2 separate regions of the Homo sapiens genome follow, and region 1 is linked to region 2. Evidence: fine-mapped expression QTL. A gene starts in region 2. The other region holds a variant in brackets. All regions are shown on one strand. Distances are between the middles of the regions.

What was found. PIP is the estimated chance that this variant, and not a neighbour inherited with it, causes the effect.
Region 1: its variant is the best candidate, but not a certain one, in a credible set for the expression of APOC4-APOC2 in monocytes after LPS (Kim-Hellmuth 2017, PIP 0.57).

What each region holds. Positions count from the first base shown.
Region 1 is chr19:45,018,350-45,023,575 of GRCh38, reverse strand. It overlaps RELB (RELB proto-oncogene, NF-kB subunit), which reads right to left. Exons shown (of 12, transcript NM_006509.4): 5 at 1,366-1,523. Among named protein-coding and RNA genes, the nearest start is that of CLASRP, 18 kb to the left of the region's middle. RefSeq lists an enhancer at 3,151-3,445. The variant G/A (reference allele first, on the strand shown) is at 2,988.
Region 2 is chr19:44,939,030-44,944,519 of GRCh38, reverse strand. It overlaps APOC4-APOC2 (APOC4-APOC2 readthrough (NMD candidate)), which reads right to left and starts at 2,282. Exons shown (of 6, transcript NR_037932.1): 1 at 2,167-2,282. APOC4 (apolipoprotein C4) reads right to left here and starts at 2,283. Exons shown (of 3, transcript NM_001646.3): 1 at 2,167-2,283. The coding sequence starts at 2,242.

The sequences.
Region 1 (5,226 bases), 79 kb before region 2:
GTCCCAGCTACTTGCGAGGCTGAGGCAGGAGAATCACTTGAACCCAGGAGGCAGAGCTTGCAGTGAGCCGAGATCGCGCCACTGCATTCCAGCCTGGGCGACAGAGCGAGACTCTGTCTGAAAGAAAGAAAGAAAGAAGGACGGAAGGAAGGAAGGAAGGAAGGAAGGAAGGAAGGAAGGAAAGAAAACTGCAAATTAAACACCAATGAAGATGCCTTTGTTTTGGGGCACTCATCAAAATAGCAAAAATCAAAATGTTTCATAATACTCGGTGCTGGTGAGGTTGTGGAGAATCAGGTGCTCTCACCCATTACTGATGGGTCTGTAAATTGCATAACATGGCAGTATTCATTCATTCCACAAATATTTCCTGAGCACCTACTATGTGCCAGTTACTATGCCAGACACTCGGAATACAGCAGGGAATGTAAGAGACAAGATCTCTGCTCTCGGAACTTATATTTTCACTAAGTTTAAAAATTTCTAAAATTAAATCTTCCAGACCTGAGTGTGAGCAATACTCAGCCCTACCTCTGAAGTGCGTGCTGCCTTTAGGGCTCTACCCAAAGTCAGTGTAACACAGTGAAGTGTGTCACTACCTTTCTGTCTCTTTGCACTATGAAAAAATGCTCAAAGTTTTAGATGTAGCCACTGTATGTTGTGTAAGCATTTGTGGACATATGCAAAATAAAAGTTATACAGTGCTTCTGTTTTAAAAAGAAAGAAAAGGCCGGCACGGTGGCTCATGCCTGTAATCCCAGCACTTTGGGAGGCCGAGCTGGGAGGATCACCTAAGGTCAGCAGTTCGAGACCAGCCTGGTCAACATGGTGAAACCCCATTTCTACTAAAAATCCAAAAAATTCGCTGGGTGTAGTGTCGCATGCCTGTAATCTCAGCTACTCGGGAGTCTGGGGCAGGAGAATCACTTGAATCCGGGAGGTGGAGGTTGGAGTGAGCTGAGATCGAACCATTGCACTCCAGCTTGGGCAACAAGAGCAAAACTCCGTCCCAAAAAAAAAAAAAAAAAGATGAATTGTAAAGTAAGAGAAAGAACAGACCTTGCAGTTAAGTCAGGTCTGCAGTCAAATCCCAGCTCTGTCATCAATTATCTGTGCTCCTTACCCTCTCTGAGCCTCAGTTTCTTCCTCTACAAAATAGGGATAAAATGTATGTGAATATGTGTGTGGCAAGGCTCCAGGCCTAAGTGAGGCCCTCCACTGTCCCCAGGCCTGTCTCCCACCTAGAAGAGGCAGTGGGGAGGGTTTACCCAAGCTGCCCTCTGCTCTAAAGTTTCATGGGTGGCCTCCAGTCGCTTAGAATCTCCATGATCAAGGATGAGAGGTCGGAGGTCAGGGGGTGGGTACCTGTGCCGGGGGCTGACGTGAGGCCGGAGCCGCACCCTGCAGATGCCGTCGGTGCAGTCTTTCCCCACGAGGCTGTGGGGGTGGACTCGGTGAGGCCAGTCCTTCCACACCAGGCAGGCAGTCACCTCCACCTCCCGCAGCCCTCCACAATCCCGGAGCTGCAGGAAGAGAAGTCCTCTTTGGGGGTCCCATCACCGATGCCTGCGTCCATCCAAACTCCTTGGGGCCTTCCTTGGCAGCTCCCCAATCCTCTCCCCACTAGGGTCCTCTGTTGGGAGCTCCCCAACCTTCTCCCGCGACCAGGATGATGGAATGTGTTTGCTTAAGACCACTTTGGGCCGGGCGAGGTGGCTCACGCCTGCAATCCCAGCACGTTGGAAGGCCGAGGTGGGCGGATCACCTGAGGTCGGGAGTTCCAGACCAGCCTGGCTAACATGGTGAAACCCAGTCTCTACTGAAAATACAAAAATTAGCCCGGCATGGTGGCGCATGCCTGTAATCCCACCTGCTCGGGAGGCTGAGGCAGGAGAATCGCCTGAACCTGGGAGGCGGAGGATGCAGTGAGCCGAGTTCTTGACACTGCACTCCAGCCTGGGTGACAGAATATGACGGTCTCAAAAAAAAAAAAAAAAAAAAAGGCCACTTTGATATCCTAAACCAGAAGCTTCCAACTGATGAACTGGGGGGCCTCATATAATATCTGCCCTACAGGCTGCTTTTTTAGGCCACTCAGGCTTTTTTTTTTTTTTTTTTTGAGATGGAGTCTCGCTCTGTCGCCCAGGCTGGATCCGCTCACTGCAAGCTCTGCCTGCGGGTTCACGCCATTCTCCTGCCTCAGCCTCCCGAGTAGCTGAGACTACAAGTGCCCACCACCATGCCCGGCTAATTTTTTTCTATCTTTAGTAGAGATGGGGTTTCACCGTGTTCGCCAGGATGGTCTCGATCTCCTGACCTCGTGATCCGCCCGCCTCGGCCTCCCAAAGTGCTGGGATTACAGGCGTGAGTCACCGTGCCTGGCCTTTTTTAAATTTTTTTGTGACAGGGTCTCGCTGTATCACCTAAGCTAGAGTGCGGTGGCGGGAGATCTCAGCTCACTGCAACCTCCGCCTCCGGGCTCAAGGGATTCTCCTGCCGCAGCCTCCTGAGTAGCTGGGACTACAGGCGCACACTACCATGCCTGGCTAATTTTTGTGTTTTCAGTAGAGACGGAGTTTCGCTACATTGCCCAAGCTGGTCTCAAACTCCTGAACTCAAGCGATCTGCCTGCCTTGGCCTCCTAAAGCGCTGGGATGACAGGCATGAGCCACCACGTGAAAATTTCAGTGTCATGGAAGACTATAAAGATGGGTGCCATGGCCGGGTGCGGTGGCTCACGCCTGTAATCCCAGCACTTTGGGAGGCTGAGACGGGCAGATCATGAGGTCAGGAGATCGAGACCATCCTGGCTAACATGGTGAAACCCCATCTCTACTAAAAATACAAAAAATTAGCTGGGCGTGGTGGCGGGCACCTGTAGTCCCAGCTACTTGGGAGGCTGAGGCAGAAGAATGGCGTGAACCCGGGAGGCGGAGCTTGCAGTGAGCCAAGATCGCGCCACTGCACTCCAGCCTGGGCGACAGAGC[G/A]AGACTCCGTCTCAAAAAAAAAAAAAAAAAAAAAAGATGGGTGCCACATTTGGGGTTAAAAGACAACAAATGATGGGCCAGGCACAGTGGCTCACGCCTGTAATCCCAGTACTTTGGGAGGTTGAGGTGGGAGGACTGCTTGAGACCAGGAGTTCAAGACCAGCCTGGGCAACCCCGTCTCTATAAAAAATACAAAAATTAGCCAGGTGTGGTGACAGGCATCTATAATCCCAGCTACTCTGGAAGCTGAGGTGGGAGGATCACTTAAGCCTGAGACGTGGAAGTTGCAATGAGCCCAGATTGCGTCACTGCACTCCAGCCTGGGTGACAAAGTCCCTGTCTCAAAAAAGAAAAAAAAAAAAAGAGAGAGAGAGAAAGAGAATAAATCATGTATTGTGACCTGGGTGCCTGGGTGGTAGGTAGTTACACTGTGTAAACTACATATGTATACATTATATGTAAAAATTCAGAGCTTTAATCTTAACTATATATGATCAATTATATCTTAATTTTTTTAAAAAAGGAGAGAAGGGCTGCGCACAGTGGCTCACGCCTGTAATCCCGACGCTTTGGGAGGCCGAGGTGGGGGATCACCTGAGGTCGGGAGTTTGAGGAGGCCGAGGTGGGTGGATCACCTGAGGTTGGGAGTTTGAGGAGGCCGAGGTGGGTGGATCAACTGAGGTCGGGAGTTTGAGACCAGGCTGACCAACATGGAGAAACACCGTCTCTACTAAAAATACAAAATTAGCCGCACGTGGTGGCACATGCCTGTAGTCCCAGCTACTCGGGAGGCTGAGGCAGGAGAATCACTTGAACCCTGGAGATGGAGGTTGCGGTGGGCCCAGATCGTGCCATTGCACTCCAGCCTGGGTGACAAAGCAAGACTCCTTCTCAAAAAATAAATAAATACATAAATACATAAATAAAGAGAGAAGGAGAGAGACTAATGAGATAGGACAACCAAATGCAACATGATCCTTGGTTAAATCCTGGATTAAGGAGGAAGAAACAACTATAAAACACATTTTGGAAACAATTGGGAAATTGAAATATGGACTGTATATTACATGATTTGATGGGATTACTAATTTTCCTAGAGGTGATTAATGAGATTGTAGCTACAGAGGAGCTTATGATTAGGAGATACATCCTGAAGGAATTAGGGGTGAAGTAGCATGATGGCTACAATTCATTTGTAAATGAGTCATCAAAAAAACAATGTGTCGGCCAGGCGTGGTGGCTCACACCTGTAATCCCAGCACTTTTTGGAGGCCAGGGAAGGTGGGTTGCTTCAGCACAGGAGTTCAAGACCAGCCTGGGCAACATGTGCAGACCCCATCTCTACAAAAAATACAAAAATCAGCCAGGTGTGGTGGAATGCACCTGTAGTCCCAGGTACTCAGGAGGCTAAGATGGGAAAACTGCTTGAACCCTGGAGATCCGGGCTTCAGTGAGCTGTGATGGCGTCACTGTATTCCAGCCTGGGCAATAGAGCAAGACCCTGTCTCAAAACAAAACAAAAATGTATGTATCTGTGTGTGTGTATGTTTGGCTGTGCGGAGACAGAATGAGAGACACAGCAGATGTGGCAAAATGTCAACTGGTGAATATAGATGAAAGGCACTAGCTTTCAGCCGAGCGCGGTGGCTCACGCCTGTAATCTGGCGGGTGGATCACCTGAGGTCAGGAATTCGAGACCAGCCTGACCGACATGGAGAAACCCCGTCTCTACTAAAAATACAAAATTAGCAGGGCGTGGTGGCACATGTCTGTAATCCCAGCTACTCGGGAGGCTGAGGCAGGAGAATCGCTTGAACCTGGGAGGCACAAGTTGCAGTGAGCCGAGATCGCGCCATTGCACTACAGCCTGGGCAACAAGAGCGAAACTCTGTCTCAAAAAAAATTAAAAAAAAATAAATAAATAACAGGCACTCACCTTTCAAAGATACTCAGTGTATTATTTTTTAACTTTTCTGTAGGTTTAAATTCTTATTTATTTATTTTTTTGAGATGGAGTCTTGCTCTGTTGCCCAGGCTGGAGTGCAATGGCATGATCTCAGCTCACTGCAACCCCTGCCTCCCAGGTTCAAGCCATTCTCGTCTCTACCTTCTAAGTAGCTAAGATTACAGGTGCCTGCCACCATGCCTGGCTAATTTTTGTATTTTTATTTTATTTTACTTTTTTGAGATGGAGTCTCGCTCTGTTGGCCAGGCTGGGGTGCAGTGGCACGATCTCAGC
Region 2 (5,490 bases):
TCTCTTGCTCTGTTGCCCAGGGTGGAGTGCAGTGTCATGATCTCGTCTCATTGCAACCTCCACCTCCTGGATTCAGGCAATTTTCCTGCCTCAGCCTCCCGAGTAGCAGGGATTACAGGCATCTGCCATCATGCCCGGCTAATTTTTGTATTTTTAGAAGAGATGGGGTTTTGCCATGTTGGGGCCTCGAACTCCTGACCTCAAGTGATCCACCCACCTCGGGCTCCCAAAATGCTGGGATTACAGATGTGAGCCACCCCGTCCGGCTGGGCCATCTCTTCACCTTGTGTCAGTAGTCCCTCCTGTCACCCTGTCTGCCTGTGGTTCCCCTCTAATGGCCTCTCTAATTGCCATCCTCTGATGCCTCCCTTCACCACCTGATTTTGCTGCCCAGGAACTACCCCCTTCTCCCTTCGTTCTCCTGTGACCCCCACCCTGTCTGAGCTACCTCTGTGGACAGTGGAGGGAGAGCAGGAGGTGACTTTCTGCCCCCAGGGGCAGACATTGGCTTAGCCTTGCTGTCAGTTCCTCTTTCCGGGCCAGACCTTCTACCCACGCATCTGGACAAAGCCTCGCCTACAGAGACCAGCCGTCACGCGGGGGCCACATGTAGCTAGCTGTGTGCCTTGGCCGGTGACTTATCCTGTCTCCCCAGGACTGTTTCTCCTTTTGTAGAACGGGGTAATAATATCTACCTCAGGGTTATCGTGAGAATTAAGAGTTACTACATACGATGCACATGGAATGGTGCCTTGCACATTGTCTACATACGTGTTAAATTTTTTTTTTTTTTCAGACGGAGTCTCGCTCTGTCACCCAGGTTGGAATGCAGTGGCGCGATCTCGGCTCACTGCAACCTCTGCCTCCCGGGTTCAAGTGATTCTCCGGCCTCAGCCTCCCGAGTAGCTGGGACTACAGGCGCATGCCACCATGCATGGCTAATTTTTTGTATTTTTAGTAGAGATGGGTTTTTACCCATCTGTTAGCCAGGATGATCTCAAATCTCCTGACCTTGCGATCCACCCGCCTCGGCCTCCGAAAGTGCTGGGATTACAGGCATGAGCCACCGTGCCTGGCCCTGTATTAAAAATTTAAATTTCTACTGGATAATGCTGATCTAGAATATGATCCCATTTTAACATAAAGTACATGGCCGGGCGTGGTGGCTCATGCCTGTAATCCCAGCACTTTGGGAGGCCAAGGCGGGCGGATCACCTGAGGTCAGGATTTCAAGACCAGCCTGGGCAACATGGCAAAACCCTGTCTCTACCAAAAATATAAAAAAATTAGCCAGGCATTGGCCAGGCGCAGTGGCTCACGCCTATAATCCTAGCACTTTGGAAGGCCGAGGCAGGCGGATCACGAGGTCAGGATATGGAGACCATCCTGGCTAACACGGCGAAACCCCGTCTCTAGTAAAAATACAAAAAATTAGCCAGGCGTGGTGGTGGGCTCCTGTAGTCCCAGCTACTCGGGAGGCTGAGGCAGGAGAATGGCGTGAACCCGGGAGGCGGACGTTGCAGTGAGCCAAGATCACGCCACTGCACTCCAGCCTGGGTAACAGAGCGAGACTCCGTCTCAAAAAAAAAAAATTAGCCAGGCATGGTGGCGTGTGTCTGTAGTCCCAAATACTCTGAAGACTGAGGCAGGAGAATCCCTTGAAACGGGTAGGCGGATGATGCAGTGAGCCAAGATCGCACCACTGCTACCACTGCACTCCAGCCTGGGTGACAGAGTGAGACTCCGTCTCAAAAAAAAAAAAAAAAATGCATATGCAAAACACAGACGTACACACCAGCACACACTCACCCCCTCACACATGTCCACACACTCAAATATTTTGCACACACATACCCCACAGAGAGACAGGTGCACACAAATACACATATGCACACAGACATGCACTTTTTTACCACGACTGCATACTCCCACTTCCACGCACGCACGTGCACACACACAGATGATCCCAGTTTGTACCAATGTGACATTCACACTTCACTCTCAGCCACCGACACACACACTCCCCGACACGCACATGCATACGCACGCCATGAAACGCACACACTCCGTACTCATGTCTCACGTGGCTACAGAGCCACAGGACACACAGCCACACTCACACCCACCAGGTGTGGGCCCCACATCCCTCCACCCACTTCTTCTCACCCCCAATGCAGGCCAGGACCAGCACGCAGAGGCACAGGGCAGGCAGGGCCTGGAGCCTGTTTCTGAGGAGGGACATTTCTGGGGGTTCCGTGCCTCTGTCCCTCTGTGCTCAACTCTGCGGGCCGGGGGAGGGGAGGCTGCACAGAGCAGGGCCCTCCCCCGGCCACCTCCCCGCTTGGCAGAGACTTCAGAGAGCAGGGCCCAGGTGACAGTGGCAATCAGAGGTCATGCCTCTGTGGGCCTCCCTCCTTCTCACCCTCCCACACAGTGCCCTGAGAGAAGACAGAGGCTCTTGAGCCTCCTGCACTGAGGCAGGTTCAAATCCTGTCTCCACCTCCCATGACAGCCTCATTTGCTGGCCTCAGTTTCCTCCTCCATAAAGTGGGAGGCACAGTACATATTTCAGTATATTACTTGAACAAATACAAAGAAAGGCGCAGTGGCTCACGCCTGTAATCCCAGCACTTTGGGAGGCCGAGGTGGGCAGATCATATGAGGCCAGGAGTTTGAGACCAACCTGGCCAACATGGTGAAAAACCCTGTCCCTACTAAAAATACAAAAATTAGCCAGAAGTAGTGATGCGTGCCTGTAATCCCAGCTACTTGGGAGGCTGAGGCAGGAGAATGGCTTGAACCCGGGAAGTGAAGGCTGCAGTGAGCCGCGATCACACCACTGCACTCCAGCCTGGGTGACAGAGCAAGACTCTGTCTTGAAACAAAACAAAACAAAAAATGAAGAAAGCTCTTACCGTGGAGACTGGCAATATAGGTGCTCAAAGATCATTGCTGTTGGCCAGGCGCGGTGGCTCATGCCTGTAACCCCAACACTTTGGGAGGCCGAGGCAGGCGGATCACGAGGTCAGGAGATTGAGACCATCTTGGCTAACACGGTGAAACCCCATCTCTACTAAAAATATGAAAAATTAGCCAGGCGTGGTGGCAGGCGCCTGTAGTCCTAGCTACTCGGGAGGCTGAGGCAGGAGAATGGCGTGAACCTGGGAGGTGGAGCTTGCATTGAGCCGAGATCGCGCCACTGCAGTCCAGCCTGGGCGAAAGAGCAAGACTCCGTCTCAGAAAAAAAAAAAAGATCATTGCTGTTATTATTATCTTGTGTCTAATTTCTCCTAGTCACTGGGCTGCAGGGCCAGGCTTGTGGTAGGGCCTCAATAGGGCCCAAGGGTTGATGAGAGGAAATAGCAACACAGTCTCATGTCTCCAGCCTCTGTTTCTTCCTAGGTGGGCTCGAGCCCGATCACTTCCAAGCATTCCTTGAGTTCTCAATTCCAACTCTTTCTCCTCTGGGTGACTCTGGCTTCAGATGGACCTGGGCTTCGAATCCCTCACTTCTTCACCGTGTGACCTGGGCAAATACGTTTTCTTTTCTGGGGCTCAGTTTGTTCAACTGTAACACGGGGTTGATAGGGAGCACCTGCCTCCCAGTGTCCTCATGCAGGACGGCTGAGGCCTATGCAGGAGAGCTGCAGGTGCACATAGTAGGAGGTCATCAACATCAGGCCCAGGGCCAGGGCGGTGGCTCCCACCTGTAATCCCAGCACTTTGGGAGGCCGAGGCAGGCGGCTCACTTGAGGTCAGGAGTTCAAGACCAGCCTGGCCAACGTAGTGAAACCCCGTCTCTACTAAAAATACAAAAATTAGCCGGGTGTGGTGGAGCGAGACCTTGTCTCAAAAACAATAACAACAACAAAAACCAACAAAAAACCCACATCAGGCTCGGTCCCAGTGCCAGAAATAGAGCATTTTTCTCCTGAAGGACCCAGCTGCACCCCAGGGCACATGGCTCAGGGGACTATGGACTGGATTCTTTTTTTTTTTTTTGAGACAGAGTCTGGCTCTGTCGCCCAGGCTGGAGTGCTGTGGCGCGATCTCGGCTCACTGCAAGCTCCGCCTCCCAGGTTCACGCCATTCTCCTGCCTCAGCCTCCCGAGTAGCTGGGACTACAGGCACCCGCCACCACGCCCAGCTAATTTTTTGTATTTTTAGTAGAGACGGGGTTTCACCGTGTTAGCCAGGATGGTCTCGATCTCCTGACCTCGTGATCCGCCCGCCTCGGCCTCCCAAAGTGCTGGGATTACAGGCTTGAGCCACTGCGCCTGGCCTGGACTGGATTCTTTTGTCTACGCTTGCCAGACGAAATAGAGGAGGCCCAATTACATTTGAATTTCAAATCAACAGTGCATGACGTTTTAGTATAAATATGTCCCATGAAATATTTCAGAATTATACCAAAAAGTTTTTTTTGCTATTAATCTGAAATTCAAATGTAACTGAGCATCCTGTATTTTTACATGGCAAATCTGCAAACGCAACCTTGGCCACAACCTGAACAACTGTGCAGGACTGTCTTGACCCAGATGTCTGCCTTGGCAGAATCCTGTCCATCCCAGAGGCCCCAGCGTGAGCACAGTAGGTGCGCAACAGATGTCCCCTGGAATTCCTCTGTAGCAATCATCAGCAGATTGAAAACACCCAGAGTTTCTGTTTGGGATGACGAAGACATCCTGCAAATAGTGGGGATGGTTGCACAACAGTGTGAATGTACTTAATGCCACTGAACTGTACACCTAAAAATGGCTGCAATGGTTAAGTTTTTTTTTTTTTTTTTTTTTTTTTGAGGCAGAGTCTCACTCCGTCACCCAGGATAGAGTGCAATGGTGTGATCTTGGCTCACTGCAACCTCTGCCTCCCGGGTTCCAGCGATTCTCCTGCTTCAGCCTCCCGCGTAGCTGGGATTACAGGTGTGCGGCAACCACACCCGGCTAATTTTTTGTATGTATGTATGTATTTGAGACATAGTTTCGCTCTTGTTGCCCAGGCTGGAGTGCAATGGTGCGATCTTGACTCACTGCAACCTCCGCCTCCCGGGTTCAAGCGATTCTCCGGCCTCAGCCTCCTTAGTAGCTGGAATTATAAGCGCCTGCCACCATGCCCAGCTAATTTTTTGTATTTTTAGTAGAGACGGGGTTTCACAATGTTGGCCAGGTTGGTCTTGAACTCCTGACCTCAGGTGATCCACCTGCCTTGGCCTCTCAAAGTGCTGGGATTACAGGCGTGAGCCACCATGGCTGGCTCATTTTTTTGTATTTTTAAAGAGACAGGTTTTCACCATGTTGGCCAGGGTGGTCTCAAACTCCTGACCTCTCAGGTGATCCATCCACCTCAGCCTCCCAAAGTGCTGGGATTGCAGGCATGAGCCACTGCGCCTGGCTGCCCAGCTAATATTTTTATTTTTTGTAGAAACACAGTTTTGCCAAGTTGCCCAGACTGGTCTTGAACTCCTGGGTTCAAGTAATCCTCCCACCTCAA